Homo sapiens: one gene and its partner. The protein of the gene in region 2 interacts with the protein of the main gene of each other region in a biochemical or structural test. Each region holds a gene or a part of one and is shown on either strand. Other genes may lie near its edges. The genes, in order: TRIO and NAV1.

Region 1 (7,000 bases), on a different chromosome or scaffold from region 2:
AACATAAGAAAGTTCTCATCATTGCCAGCCATGCTAGTGGGGGGTCATTTTCAGCACCTGGGGTGCTGGGAGTCCTGGGGTAACTGCCGTCCACAGGTCTCAGACTGTCCCCAGTCTGGGTTTTGTTGCAGGCTGTCAGGGTTTTGTACTCACCCGATGCTCCCTGGAGACCTTTGCTCGCAGGAGTGACTGGAGGAGTTCATGTAATCAATTAATGCACCAAAGTCAGGAGAAATGGGCATGGTGACCGTTGTTTTCCTGAAAAGAAGACGGGATGCAAAACCATTAATACAAAATTGAAATCTTAACAGGTTTTGCAGGTTGAACATGAAGCGTGTATAGCCTGGGTCTCTTCCTTTATGGTACAAGGGAGGGACGAGAAGGAGCTGAGCACAGTGTGCTCCTTCCCCTGCCTCCGCACGTGTCCAGCAGGGGAGGGAAGCTGGGTCTGTGGCACCCAGTGGGACTCTGACCAGGCAGAGTGGCAAGAGATGTAACCCGTCTTCAGCCATGTTTTCTTTCTCTGCAGCGAGGAGGTCTGCAAGCGTGGCTTCACGGTGATCGTGGACATGCGTGGGTCCAAGTGGGACTCCATCAAGCCCCTTCTGAAGATCCTGCAGGAGTCCTTCCCCTGCTGCATCCATGTGGCCCTGATCATCAAGCCAGACAACTTCTGGCAGAAACAGAGGACTAATTTTGGCAGTTCTAAATTTGAATTTGAGGTAACTTCCCCCGTGTGGCTAGACCCACTAAACAAGTTGGTGTGGTTTACTAAAAGCTATTGAGGCTAATGAGAGATTTTTTTTTTAAACCACATATTAAACAGGAGCTGCATATCTTACGAACATGTGATACGTAAAATTAGTTACTGCATGAAATAACAGAGCTGCGTTCATCATCCGAGTGGATTGTTTTACCCACATGGGCTTAGGTTTCAGTTCCCTTGGGTTGGGTGATGGGCTGTTGAGTTGTGAGGCCTTGGCAGAGAAGCTTGCTGGCTGCCTTATATTTCACTTGACAAACAGCTTTACCAGGCAGCACTGTGGCTTTGCACAGTTACAGATTCATTCTCCTTGCCTCAGCCCTGGAGATGAGGGAATGTTAGGGAGAAATGCCCAACTTCAGAGTCCCTAAGTTTCATCCTGTCATGGATAATGGAAAGAATGCATGTATTAGGCCTCTGATTTCTGAAAATGGAGATAGTGTGTTAAAAACTGTGCAGAGTCCTGAATTCAGTTAGGCATGGAAGATTGCCGTCTTTCAGTGGTAAAAACAAGACAAAACCCTCAGCCCACTAATTATTTTGCTTCCCACTGTAACCTCCTCTCCTTAAGCTACCAAGGTTCTGACAAGGCCTTCGGTGCAGTTAGTTTAATGAGATGATTATGGGAGGAAAGTCTTCCTGCCAGCATGAAACTTGATTCTTGCTCCATTTGGAATAAGATTTTAATATTTTCTAATAAGAAATACTTTTTGGTTGAATAGATTGCTTCCTCTGGCAAATCTGCTCAAACGTTAGGTTTCAGTGGATGTATTCATGTATTTTAAGGTAAACAGCAATAATATTAAACATCAGACAGTGTTAATCCTTAATCTTCAGGTTATAATGCTATACTTTTCAAAGTGTTTGCACAGGTGTATTACTTGGATTTTTAAATTCTTTCCATAGTACTCATTTTTCTATCCAAAATATGAACTTAGTTTTAAATTTGAAACTACTCAGGTTTACTACACTCCATCAGAAAGATGAACCCAGTAAGCCTTTATCTTCATAGAGAATAGGAAGTAATTTTGGAGGACAGTTTATTGGGTGTTAATTATTTTCTTGATGCAGAATTGAAAGTGCATTGTATTTAATTATAAGTGTTTTAAGTAAAAATAATGGTCTGGCAATACAATTCATACAGGTTTTTCCAGTCCAGTTTTGATCTCTCCCTCAGGGCTCTTAAAGGCACCAGTTTTTCTATGGAACTTGTTACATTGTTACCAGCCTCTCTCTCCCCACCCAGTGATTGCCTCTGTGGAGATTATTAAAAGTCCAGCAGGACCGGGTGTGGTGGCTCACGCCTGTAATCCTAGCACTTTGGGAGGCCGAGGCGGGCGGACCACGAGGTCAGGAGATTGAGACCATCCTGGCTAACACGGTGAAACCCCATCTCTACTAAAATACAAAAAATTAGCCGGGCGTGGTGGCAGGCACCTGTAGTCCCAGCTACTTGGGAGGCTGAGGCAGGAGAATGGCGTGAACCTGGGAGGCAGAGCTTGCAGTGAGCCGAGATTGTGCCGCTGCACTCCAGCCTGGGCAACAGAGCGAGATTCCGCCTCAAAAAAAAAAAAAGTCCAGCAAACGAGAGAGGAATGGGCCTATGGTAGGATTGTAGGCATAAGTGCTGGATCAGGAGTCATCCCTCTTCTACCTCTGCTGCCTTCTGATGTTTCTTTTGCCAACCAGCACGCCGGACCAGCCCTTCTTGTTTTCTCTTTTGGTTCTAGGTCACAACTCTTTCTCCTTCACCTTTGTCTTTGCATTTAATCTTCCCCCTCCATGTTTTCCTTGAGGCATATTAATATTAATCTGCTTCACATCATGATAAGGTGAGGTTAAGATTTCTTGCCGAGGCCAGGCACAGTGGCTCATGCCTGTAATCCCAGCACTTTGAGATTCTAAGGGAGGAGGACTGCTTGAGGCTGGGAGTTCGAGCCCAGCCTGAGAAACTTAGCAAGAGCCTGTCTCTATATTTTGTTTTAAAAATTAGCCAGGTGTGGCCGGGCGCGGTGGCTCATGCCTGTAATCCCAGCACTTTGGAAGGCCGAGGCGGGCGGATCACAAGGTCAGGAGTTCGAGACAACCTGGCCAACATGGTGAAACTCCATCTCTACTAAAAATACAAAAATTAGCTGAGCGTGGTGTAAGTCACCTGTAATCCCAGCTACTCGGGAGGCTGAGGCAGGAGAATCACTTGAAATCGGAAGGTGTAGGTTGCAGTGAGCTGAGGTTGCACCACTGCACTGCAGCATGGGCAACAAGAGCAAAACCCTGTCTCAAAAAACAAACAAACAAAAATCACCAGGTGTGGTGGCACACGTGTAATTCCAGCTACTCAAGAGGCTTAAGATGGGAGGATGGCTTGAGCCCAGGAATTTAAGCTTACAGCATGTAATCATCGCCACACTCCAGTCTGGAAGACAGAGCATGACCCTTTTTTTCCTTTTTTAAAAAAAAAGGTCGTGTGCGATGTCTCATGCCTGTAATCCCAGCACTTTGGGAGGCTGAAGTGGGTGGATCATTTGAGATCAGGAATTTGAAACCAGCGTGACCAACATGGTGAAACCCCGTCTCTACTAAAAATACAAAAGAATTAGCCTGGTGTGGTGGTGGGCACCTGTAGTCCCAGCTACTCGGGAGGCTGAGGCAGGAGATCACTTGAACCTGGGAGGCAGAGGTTGCAGTAAGCTGAGACTGCGCCACTGCACTCCAGCCTGGGTGACAGAGCAAGACTCCATCTCAAAAAAAAATAATAATAATAAATATAAAGATTTCTTGCTTAGACTGTAATTGACTAAAACTTTGTCACTGTTAAATTGCAATGTAGTACAGATTATATACAACTCTAGGACTGTTCAGAATCACAGCAGATTATTGCAATGAATAAAACATTGCCTCTATCCTTAGCTCTGTCAAATGAGCCTCTGCCAGCTTTCTTGCCAACTCTTGAATATTTTCTAAATTTTTATAAATTCATTCATATCCCATCATCTGTTATTTGATGGGCAGTGGGGTTAGGCTTAGGCAAGATGAATGATAGGGTGGTCTGGTTGGAGCAGCATTCATCGTTTAATAGGCAGCCCACACGTAATTGAATTTAGAGTGATGTTACACTTAAAAGGGTTTTGATGCCCTTGAGCAAGACGTTTGTGTAATAGCAAGTAGTAGAAAACCTCCACAGAGTTTCTGGCATGGATGAAAAAGAATGGGGAGAAGAATGCATTGATGTAAGTGAAATTTCTGAATTGTTTGCTCTGAACTTGCAATTTAACCTGTTTCCTAGTTTAATGTGTCTGTTATAGTGGGTTAATCTCCATCTTCTTGGAAAGAAATCTCATTTCTTTAGCTCTCATGAAATACACGATTCTACAGTTTTGGGTATTCCAGCTGACATATATGTGTTGCTATAATGGATTTGTCTTTCATTGTACTGATAATGCTTCTTTCATCTACATTTATTTTTATGGGGCCAGAACCAGGTATGTTATGTTTTCTATAAATAGATTACTTTAACTTTGAAAACCTGTGACTGAGCATTGCAAATTGCATTATGTTAAAACTATATAAAATTGGTTCATCTTCTCATACGTGATTTTTTTTCCCTTAAGACAAATATGGTCTCTTTAGAAGGCCTTACCAAAGTAGTTGATCCTTCTCAGCTAACTCCTGAGTTTGATGGCTGCCTGGAATACAACCACGAAGAATGGATTGAAATCAGAGTTGCTTTTGAAGACTACATTAGCAATGCCACCCACATGCTGTCTCGGCTGGAGGAACTTCAGGACATCCTAGCTAAGAAGGAGCTGCCTCAGGATTTAGAGGGGGCTCGGAATATGATCGAGGAACATTCTCAGCTGAAGAAGAAGGTGATTAAGGCCCCCATCGAGGACCTGGATTTGGAGGGACAGAAGCTGCTTCAGAGGATACAGAGCAGTGAAAGCTTTCCCAAAAAGAACTCAGGCTCAGGCAATGCGGACCTGCAGAACCTCTTGCCCAAGGTGTCCACCATGCTGGACCGGCTGCACTCGACACGGCAGCATCTGCACCAGATGTGGCATGTGAGGAAGCTGAAGCTGGACCAGTGCTTCCAGCTGAGGCTGTTTGAACAGGATGCTGAGAAGGTAAAGACGGGGGAGGCTAATGCCTCAGTGGACATGGGGGAAGCCAGCGCTGGTGGGTTCGGGTGGAAGGAAAGAGAAAAGGTGGAGAATGGTAAGGCTATACTCACCGTGTGTGCTCTAAACCAGCGAGAGTCATTTCAGAAATGGCACTGAAATCTGTTTTCCGGTTTTACTCGTTGTGCAATACAGTGCTGTTTTAGAAATTTTGAGTTCAAATTACTTATTCTTTGGTCTAGGATGCCTGTAAGATAGGAATGATATTTTCACTTAAAAGAGTGAACATTTCGGCCGTGCTCACGCCTGTAATCCCAGCCCTTTGGGAGGCCGAGGTGGGCTGATCACCTGAGGTCAGGAGATTGAGACCAGTCTGGCCAACATAGTGAAACCCCGTCTCTACTAAAAATACGAAAATTAGCCGGGTGTGGTGGCACGCGCCTGTAATCCCAGCTACTCAGGAGGCTGAGGCAGGAGAATCGCTTGAACCCATGAGGCAGAGGTTGCAGTGAGCCAAGATCGTGCCATTGCATTTCGGCCTGGGCGACAGAGTGAGACTCCGTCTTAAAAAAAAAAAAAAAAAAAAAAAAAAAAGTGAAAATTTCACAGGGTTATGTTATTGACAAAACACCATTCCAATCTATTGAGTATGTTTTTTAAAATCAAGATGAGTAATGTGTTAAAAGTAACAGTTTCTGGGTAATATAGTTGGTAATCACCTCTAGTCTCATGTTTTATTCTTATGCACCAGGCAGACCAACTGGTCAAAGTGAATCCTTATCAATTACTGGCTAATTGAATCTTAGCAATGTGGAAACTGGGCACTTACCCATAGGTATGTGTTGCAAGCCATGAACATGGGTGAATTAATCATTGAGTTTTATTGGAGCTCATTGAATTTTATATTACATGGACAGGAGAATATTTTGTAAAGTAAAAAACCACATTAGAATTCTTGGATGTAAAAGGACTTTTCAAAAGGTGATAATCCAGTGTTTTTATTACTAAAGCTTTTAATGTATCTGTCAGTGTTCTTTTGTTTTAAGTAGCACCTTGTCTAAGAGACTGGAATACCTTCTTTTCAATTACTGGAAGACCAGGTTACTGTCACTGGGATTCTGGTTCAAGTCATGGTAGCAATGCTAATTGATGATAGTCATCTATATTTTCTTAAATGTTTTCATTGCAAATGTCTTAATTGACATCCTTGTCCAAGTAACATCTATATTGAACCTTAAGGGAGATGTCATAGTTAGTTTTTCCCACCTTTTTTATAGTAAATTTTATGTTTTTGCAATCTGCACAGGTGTCTGTGTACTTCTTGATCAAACAGTGGAATCTTTTAGTCATTGATATTTCTGTCAGTAACCTGTGGGCACAGCAGAACCCATCCAGAGACCCATAAGTTCCTAATTTCACCCTAACGGGTCTTTAATTGAACCTCACTGTGGCAAATTAAGTAGTTCAGCGTGGCAGGGAGACTGGGCTGAGAGTCAGAGGATCAGAGTTTTTAATCAGCCTGGGGGATTAGAGTAACTCTCTTTACTTATCTGCTTCTTAATTCCTTCTCTGTAAGAGGAACACATCAGATAAGATTTTCTGGTAGGTCCTGCAAGTTCAGAACTGCTGACTTGTTCTTCGAAGTAAAGACTCTTCTGAGAGAATCAGACAGCGCTTGAAGTTGTCCAGGGAAGGAAGTTGCCCTTTCTTGGTACTGCCCCATCTGTGGGCTTGTGTCAGTAATTTCTCTTTCTGGAGTGATTGCGGGTTGTCTTTTTCCTTCCGGTAGATGTTTGACTGGATCACACACAACAAAGGCCTGTTTCTAAACAGCTACACAGAGATTGGGACCAGCCACCCTCATGCCATGGAGCTTCAGACGCAGCACAATCACTTTGCCATGAACTGTATGGTAAGACACTCGGAACAGCTGGACCCTGGCATGTGACAGTGTTTTAGCAAATGGGAGGCATTTGGCAAATTGTATGCTAGGGCTTTCAAGGGGCCTTCGGAGTGGCTGTTGATTGTAGCAGCTGACCTTCACATGGAGGGTGTTCCCTAGGGTTCCATTGTCTCACTATCCCACATTTTAAGTTTTAAACAAAAATGAAAACAAGCA
Region 2 (7,984 bases):
GAGCTCAAGCTACAAAGATATGGAGGTTGTAGTAAGTTCACTTAGTGCATGAAGTAGCGTTTTTGGATACAGATGTTTACAGATAAAGATGTTTAACAGCAGTATCTCCCTAATACCACAGACCTGATATTCCAAGCAATTGGCAGAGAAATGAATCCATTCAGCACAAATTTGGCCCCTCTACATGGCCACAGCACCTTAGATTTGGTTCACTTAACAGAAGAACAGTATGTTCTGTTTAGAAGCAGGACCCGATCCCAGGATAGGGTGAACTGCATAAACGGAGGCTCAATGAGAAATGATAAAAGTCTAAGAGGTTCTAGAAAAGAGAAATCTTTTTCTGGGCCTCATTACCAGTTATAGACATTTTTAGAAAAGGAGGGGGAGAATAGATGCAGAACGCGTCTAAAAATGAACAAAGATATGTTAATTTTAAGAATGGAGGTTGTTTACAGGGAGAGTAAATTGGTTTGTATAATTAGATTGATCCAAAAATTACCTTGCCTTTATAAAATACCTTTCTGTTAAGAAGATACAACGTTTTCTCTTGCCAGATAAAGGCAGAGTCTCTTCCTTTTGTAAAAGAACATCACCAAATTACAAGGAAGTTTAAGTCACACTTTGAGTTGCTGACAAACCTAGGACAAACCCCCAGGTTTTCTCCTTTTGGCTAGCCTATATACTGGTGCAGAGCCATTCTTGCATCAATGTGAAACATTTATTTTTTGCCTGGGCTTCTGTTTTAACGATTGACCTTCATCTCTCCTGTCCTGTAGCTGGGATGAAAGCAGCTCCATCAGTAGTGGACTCAGCGATGCCTCAGACAATCTCAGTTCAGAAGAATTCAATGCCAGCTCCTCACTCAACTCCCTCCCAAGTACTCCCACTGCTTCTCGCAGGAACTCAACAATAGTGGTACGTGAGTTTGCAAACACCCAAGCTGCCATCTCAAGATGAACCACAGGGCAAATGGCATTATCTGTGTATGGGGTTGCACGTACACACCCACTCCATGGGATTGGTTCTCATAGGCCTTTGGCCAGGTCATTTTAGAGTTGCCCCCACCCCCTCCCAAAAAAAGCTAAGGCTACTCACCCAAGACATTAGATGTTGTCATATTGTGTATACTTAGTGCCTACACCAATCTAGAGTGATACATGTAAGAGCTATTCCAACTGGAGAAAAAGAAACCCCGAGATATATGTCATCTGCTGTTGGAAACCCTAGGGGTATAGGTAGAAACCCTCAGTTTGACTTAATACTCTGAGATGAGCAGCGCCAGGTACTAACTAAAATCAATCCTGTCAGCTATCCAGTCTCCCATCTGCATAGAAGTATCTCACTCTGCCTTTTTCTCTTTTCTTTAGCTACGCACAGACTCAGAGAAGCGCTCACTGGCAGAAAGTGGGCTGAGCTGGTTTAGTGAATCAGAGGAGAAAGCCCCTAAAAAACTGGAGTACGACAGTGGTAGCCTGAAGATGGAACCTGGGACTTCTAAGTGGCGGAGGGAGCGGCCTGAGAGCTGTGATGATTCATCCAAGGGTGGAGAACTGAAAAAGCCCATCAGCCTGGGCCACCCTGGTTCCCTGAAGAAGGGCAAGACCCCACCTGTGGCTGTAACTTCCCCCATCACTCACACAGCCCAGAGTGCCCTCAAAGTCGCAGGTGAGCCTGGAATAAAGGAAGGTACAAGGGCAAAGACCTAGTTCTTTGGTTGCTCCTCTTCTTAGTGGTCATTAACCCATAGGATGATAGCAAACATTTGCATAGTGCTTTAACAGACATTATCTTATCTGGTCTAAGGACAGTCCCGTGAGTTAGGAAAGATGGGTGTTATTATTTCCATTTTACAAATGTGGAGGAAATAGAAACTCAAAGAGATTAAGTGGCTGGGCCAAAATCCCAGTTAATATGAGGTACAGGAGGAAGTATATTATGTTTAGAGACTAGTTTGGCCTCCTTCCAAACACTTCCAATGCTTGCTTTCTTCTTTCTCCCAAGTTAGTCACTCAAGGCACTTATTTTCATAGGATACAGCTTGACATCTCAGGAAGATCCTAAGAAAACAATAAATAAAATGGCTACAGCAAGAGAATTATAGTGCCCCCAAAGTTGGCCCCTTGGGTAACTTTTAGCCTTAATCAACATTTTCCTGTAGTCTCTAATTACTAAGAGATATTGTCATACTCTATTCCATTTGCTTCCCCACCTTTTTTTTCCCTTCCACAACTAGTTGTTAGATGGATATTCTTGATCATCTTTGTGTTTGCCTCTGCCTTTTTAATCAAAATGGACCATTCTACTCTGGGAGCAAAACAAAAAAAATTCCTAGCCTCCCCACCCCTCCCAGCCAGAGTCTTTCAGACAAGAAACTTTATCAGCTTATCTTGTACCTGTTTACCCAAATTTAGGCCTCTAAAAGTCTACAATACATGGACAATGTTCCCTTCTCCCATGGAGGGAAAGAAAAGGGTGGGTTTTTAAGATACTGGTCAGTTTCAGCTCTTTTCTCATTTCCCGTCCTCTTGCAGGCAAACCTGAGGGCAAAGCTACAGACAAGGGTAAGCTTGCAGTGAAGAATACTGGGCTCCAACGCTCCTCCTCTGATGCTGGTCGGGACCGCCTGAGTGATGCTAAGAAGCCCCCCTCGGGCATTGCTCGCCCCTCCACTTCGGGATCCTTTGGCTACAAGAAGCCTCCTCCTGCCACAGGCACAGCCACTGTCATGCAAACTGGTGGTTCAGCCACTCTCAGCAAGATCCAGAAGTCCTCAGGCATCCCTGTCAAGCCAGTAAATGGGCGCAAGACTAGCTTAGATGTTTCCAACAGTGCAGAGCCAGGATTCCTGGCTCCTGGAGCCCGTTCTAACATCCAGTACCGCAGCCTGCCCCGGCCAGCCAAGTCAAGTTCTATGAGCGTGACCGGCGGGCGGGGTGGACCTCGCCCTGTGAGCAGCAGCATTGACCCCAGTCTCCTCAGCACCAAGCAGGGAGGCCTTACGCCTTCCAGACTGAAGGAGCCTACCAAGGTAGCCAGTGGGCGGACCACTCCAGCCCCTGTCAATCAGACAGATCGGGAAAAGGAGAAGGCCAAAGCCAAGGCAGTGGCCTTGGACTCAGACAACATCTCCTTGAAGAGTATTGGCTCCCCAGAAAGTACTCCCAAGAACCAAGCAAGCCACCCCACAGCCACCAAGCTGGCAGAGCTGCCACCAACCCCTCTCAGGTACCCAATGTGGGCAGCCGCCTCCTTGTCTGTTTGCTTTGTCATTCTTTCGCATATCTCTGCCCTCCTTGGACTAGATGAGGCATGGCCTATCCACCGTTGTCTCTAGGCCTTTGCATGGCTCTTTCCCACCTCTCCCCCATATGCCAAGGTTCTGAAAGAATCTAGTTTCTGACAGTTCTGAAAGACTGAATCCCTCTTTCAAAACTTACCTCATTTGTACTATTCTCTGATCAATGCTTACCCTGTCTTCAGCACTTGTATGGGTGTTTTTACTGTTTATTTACACATATATACCTATTTGCATAAATTCACTTGTATCTCCCATGTGCATATGCTGGCCCCTTATCTAAGCTGAATGTGCCCCAAGTTGGGTATCAGATTTCCTTGCATTGTATTTCACAACAGCATTAGGATAAGCCTCTGTGCTTAGCAAATAGGCAGAAAACAAGACTGGATAGGATTTCTTTAAGGTCCTATCTGCCTCTCACTCTGTAATTCTATTATTCTAAATATTTCGTTTGATCTTCTCTCAGGGCCACAGCGAAGAGCTTTGTCAAACCACCCTCACTAGCCAATCTTGACAAGGTCAACTCCAACAGTCTGGATCTACCATCATCCAGTGATACCACCCATGCTTCAAAGGTCCCAGATCTGCATGCTACAAGCTCAGCATCTGGGGGCCCTCTCCCTTCCTGCTTCACCCCCAGTCCGGCACCCATCCTCAATATTAACTCAGCCAGCTTCTCCCAGGGCCTGGAGCTAATGAGTGGTTTCAGTGTGCCAAAAGAGACCCGCATGTACCCCAAACTCTCAGGCCTGCACAGGAGCATGGAGTCCCTCCAGATGCCAATGAGCCTCCCCAGTGCCTTCCCCAGCAGTACTCCCGTCCCCACCCCACCTGCTCCCCCTGCTGCTCCCACAGAAGAAGAGACGGAAGAGCTGACTTGGAGTGGAAGCCCCAGAGCTGGGCAACTGGACAGGTAGGTAGAAAAGACAGCAGAACCTCGGCCTGTCTCCGTGTCTTGGGCTCATTTTGCCATTGGCAATACTATCCTATATTTTATTGCCATTTTGTGACTTTTGACATTTTTTCACATATATTAAGTAATTTAATTTGCTTCACAACAACTCCATGAGATAGGTAAGATGTGTTTTTGTTTTTAAATTATTATTCTTATATTAAAAATGAAGAAACTTGTGCACAAAGAAGTTAAATGACTCATCCAAGATCTCATAATTAGGTTAACCTATCATCCAGAGCTTTTGCTTCCTAGTCCAAAATCATTTTGTTTTGTTTTGTTTGAGATGGAGTTTTGCTCTTGTTGCCCAGGCTGGAGTGCAGTGGTGCAGTCTTGGCTCACTGCAATCTCTGCCTCCCAGGTTCAAGCAGTTCTCCTGCTTCAGCCTGCTAAGTAGCTGGGATTACAGGCACTTGCCACCATGCACGGCTAATTTTTGTATTTTTAGTAGAGACCAGGTTTCACCATGTTGGCCAGGCTGGTCTTGAACTCCTGACCTCAAGTGATCTGCCTACATCAGCTTCCCAAAGTGCTGGGATTACAGGCATGAGCCACCACACCTGGCTGCCCAGAATCTTTTCTTTTATATCACATCCTAGTTTTCCCCTCCCTTCCCCCTATATGCCAAGGTTATCAAACTACCTATATGGTAGTTTTTACCTACCATAATACGATCTATTTTTTTTTTTTTTTTGAGATGGGGTCTCACTATGTTGCCCAGACTGGACTCAAAACTCCTTGGCTTAAGCAATCCTCCTGCCTCAGCCTCCCGGGAGCTGCAACTACAGGCTCATGCCACTGTCCCTAGTGCCATAATATGATCTTTTAAATAACTAACTATGCCTTAATTTCTTTTTTGTTTGTTTGTTTTTTGTTGTTGTTGTTGTTGTTTTGAGACGGAGTCTTGCTCTGTCGCCCAGGCTGGAGTGCAGTGGCGCGATCTTGGCTCACTTGCAAGTTCCACCTCCTGGGTTCATGCCATTCTCCTGCCTCAGCCTCCCGAGTAGCTGGGGACTACAGGCGCCCACCACTGCGTCTGGCTAATTTTTTGTATTTTTAGTAGAGACGAGGTTTCACCGTGTTAGCCAGGATGGTCTCGATCTCCCGACCTCGTGATCCACCCGCCTTGGCCTGCCAAAGTGCTGGGATTACAGGCGTGAGCTACGGCGCCCGGCCTAACCATGACTTAATTTCTAATCAGAGAAATAACATTTAATATTTCAGATAAATTTCCCAAGTTGTAAGCCAAGAAGCAGGCTATAGTATCTCTTGGTTTCTAGAGCTAAAGCAGGTCATAGTTTGATGTCCTGCGTCTAGGGTCTGCATACCTCACACCAATGGTCCTAAACTCTAGTTCCTAAGATGGACCCACATGCTTCTCTCTCTCTCTCTTTTTTTTTTTTTTTTTATCTCCACAGTAATCAGCGGGATCGGAACACTCTTCCCAAGAAAGGGCTCAGGTAACCCTTTAATGTGTTTTTTCTTCCCTATAAATGGGACTGCTGGTATGTATGAAAAATCATATCTCAACCTGTCCAAGGCTCCAGTCATGAATTTAGTCACCCTTTTAGCTGAATCATTTGTATGTGGTCCCATACAAGTACCACCTAGTACCTTGCCCAAGCTTAATATTATGTGAGTCAACTTTTACAGCAAGTGTTCTTTTTTTGGTGACAGGGGAGAAACAAGTTTGCACATGGGAATCATGCACTTACCTGTACTAGCCTATGCCATCCCAATCCTGGCTGAGCTTCATCTCTGTAATTTTCTTCCCTAAAAGTATGAGGGAGAACAGTCTGCTTCTTTGGTCACTCAGCTGGGCTAGGGGCAGGACCTACCTGGTCATCCACTGTTCTGACAGCACTGAGTTGTTCAGTTGGGTGGCAACTATTGCAACTTTTTTTTTTTTTTTTTTTTTTGAGACGGAGTCTCGCTCTGTCACCCAGGCTGGAGTGCAGTGGCACAATCTCAGCTCACTGCAACCTCCACCTCCCAGATTCAAGCGATTCTCCTGCCTCAGCCTCCCGAGTAGCTGGGGTTATAGGTGTGCACCACCAAGCCTGGCTAAATTTTGTATTTTTAGTAGAGATGGGGTTTCACCATGTTGGCCAGGCTGGTCTCAAACTCCTGACCTCAAGTGATCCACCCACCTCAGCCTCCCAAAGTGCTGGGATTACAGGCATGAGCCACTGTGCCTGACCGACTCTTGCAACTTGAAAGCCCACATGTGGAATCATAAGTCTCTGTCCTGAACTTCTGAGGAGAAGTTCTAATGCCTCCTCCATCACTTCTGCCCCCAGCTCAGGAACCCTTACGGGAATACCTGCTAGTCCTTCCACACCCTCTGGATGGTCTGGGAGAGGAGGCTGAGTCGCCACCTCTTACTCCCTCCTTGGGCAGCCCTGACCACTCCCTCTTTTCCATGTCCTGCTTTCAGAATCTCCTGGCTCCAGCCTAGTTCAGACACCCTCCGCACCAACTAAACCTCTGACCGCACTTGCTAGTCCCAGACTGAGTTCTTCTGCTGCTTCCTACAGGTACCAGCTTCAGTCCCAGGAGGAGACCAAGGAGAGGCGACATTCCCATACCATTGGTGGGCTGCCTGAATCCGATGACCAGTCAGAGCTGCCTTCTCCCCCTGCACTTCCCATGTCTCTGAGTGCAAAGGGCCAACTTACCAACATAGGTTAGTGTTTTCAGTCACTCACTGTGGCATGGGGTGAAGCAGGGGTCACCCTGCAGGGTGAGGCAAGGCAGGTGGGCTTTGGGTTTCATCTCATGTTTGACTCATGCTGTATTGGGTTGTTTCATGGTGCCTCAGTTTATCCACCCAAAGTAAGATTGAAGGTAGAGTACTTTGAGATCCTAAACTGAAAAGTTGCCCCTAGGCACAAGTTGTAGGGTCCTTTTAGCATCAGAGAGCCTGAATGGTGGCATGGAAAAGCTGTAACCCAAAGCCCAGAGATCAGACCAGTGCAAGAGCAGGCACATTGAACTGCCGGAAAGGAGCCACCACACCCAGTACTACTAGGGCCAGCTAATGAGAGGGCAATACTGAAATGTCAGGCCGACGGGGAGGAAGGAGGGAAAGGTTGTTGATTGCCAAGGACGAGATCTGCCTCCAAACTCAGCCAAGTCCAGATTCCTCAACTGCTCTGGCTGAGCCCAGGCCATCCTAACGCTGAAGGCAGGGCTGACTCAGATGTGTCCTGGCCACCCCCTTCCTAAAGCCTAGGGAGAAAGGAGAGCTAGGAAATAAGGAAGTGACTTAGAGACAGGGAGGAGAGGAAGCATCAGGTGGAGGGTCTGGCCTAGCACAGAAGCACACCAGCTCCGGTTCTGTGAAGCAGTACGCCATGATTGGCCTACTAGGAATCCATTCAGGAATAGTGCCTGGGATAGGCCTGTTATCTGCTTGCTGCATCTCTTTAAATCCATCTCTTCTTTCAGCTGAGTAAAAGAAATCAGTTAATAAAAGACAAGGACCTGTAACACACCCATGCAGTGACTGTGGGGAATTTGAGGAAAGACTAGGAATTGGGATCACTTGGCCTAGGGAAAAGAACCATTGTTCAGACAGGATCATCTGCCCTCTGAAGGGCTACTAAATGGAGGATGGGGCCAGCTTGTTCTCTATCTCCATTGAAGACCAAATAAGAAGAATTGCATTTATGCTGCAGAATGAGGGGCTGGGCTAAGCAATAATTACCTCAGGAATTTGAAAAGGTCAACAGAGA

What was found.
Region 1: the proteins of NAV1 (region 2) and TRIO form a complex in vitro, tested with the Homo sapiens proteins (one study listed by BioGRID).

The regions. Positions count from the first base shown.
Region 1 is NC_000005.10:14,286,342-14,293,341, forward strand, and holds part of TRIO (triple functional domain protein), read left to right. Parts: intron 1-529; coding exon 530-722; intron 723-4,374; coding exon 4,375-4,887; intron 4,888-6,670; coding exon 6,671-6,793; intron 6,794-7,000. UniProt on the Homo sapiens protein: Guanine nucleotide exchange factor (GEF) for RHOA and RAC1 GTPases. Involved in coordinating actin remodeling, which is necessary for cell migration and growth. Plays a key role in the regulation of neurite outgrowth and lamellipodia formation.
Region 2 is NC_000001.11:201,779,645-201,787,628, forward strand, and holds part of NAV1 (neuron navigator 1), read left to right. Parts: intron 1-776; coding exon 777-915; intron 916-1,367; coding exon 1,368-1,665; intron 1,666-2,531; coding exon 2,532-3,225; intron 3,226-3,761; coding exon 3,762-4,208; intron 4,209-5,665; coding exon 5,666-5,707; intron 5,708-6,784; coding exon 6,785-6,933; intron 6,934-7,984. UniProt on the Homo sapiens protein: May be involved in neuronal migration.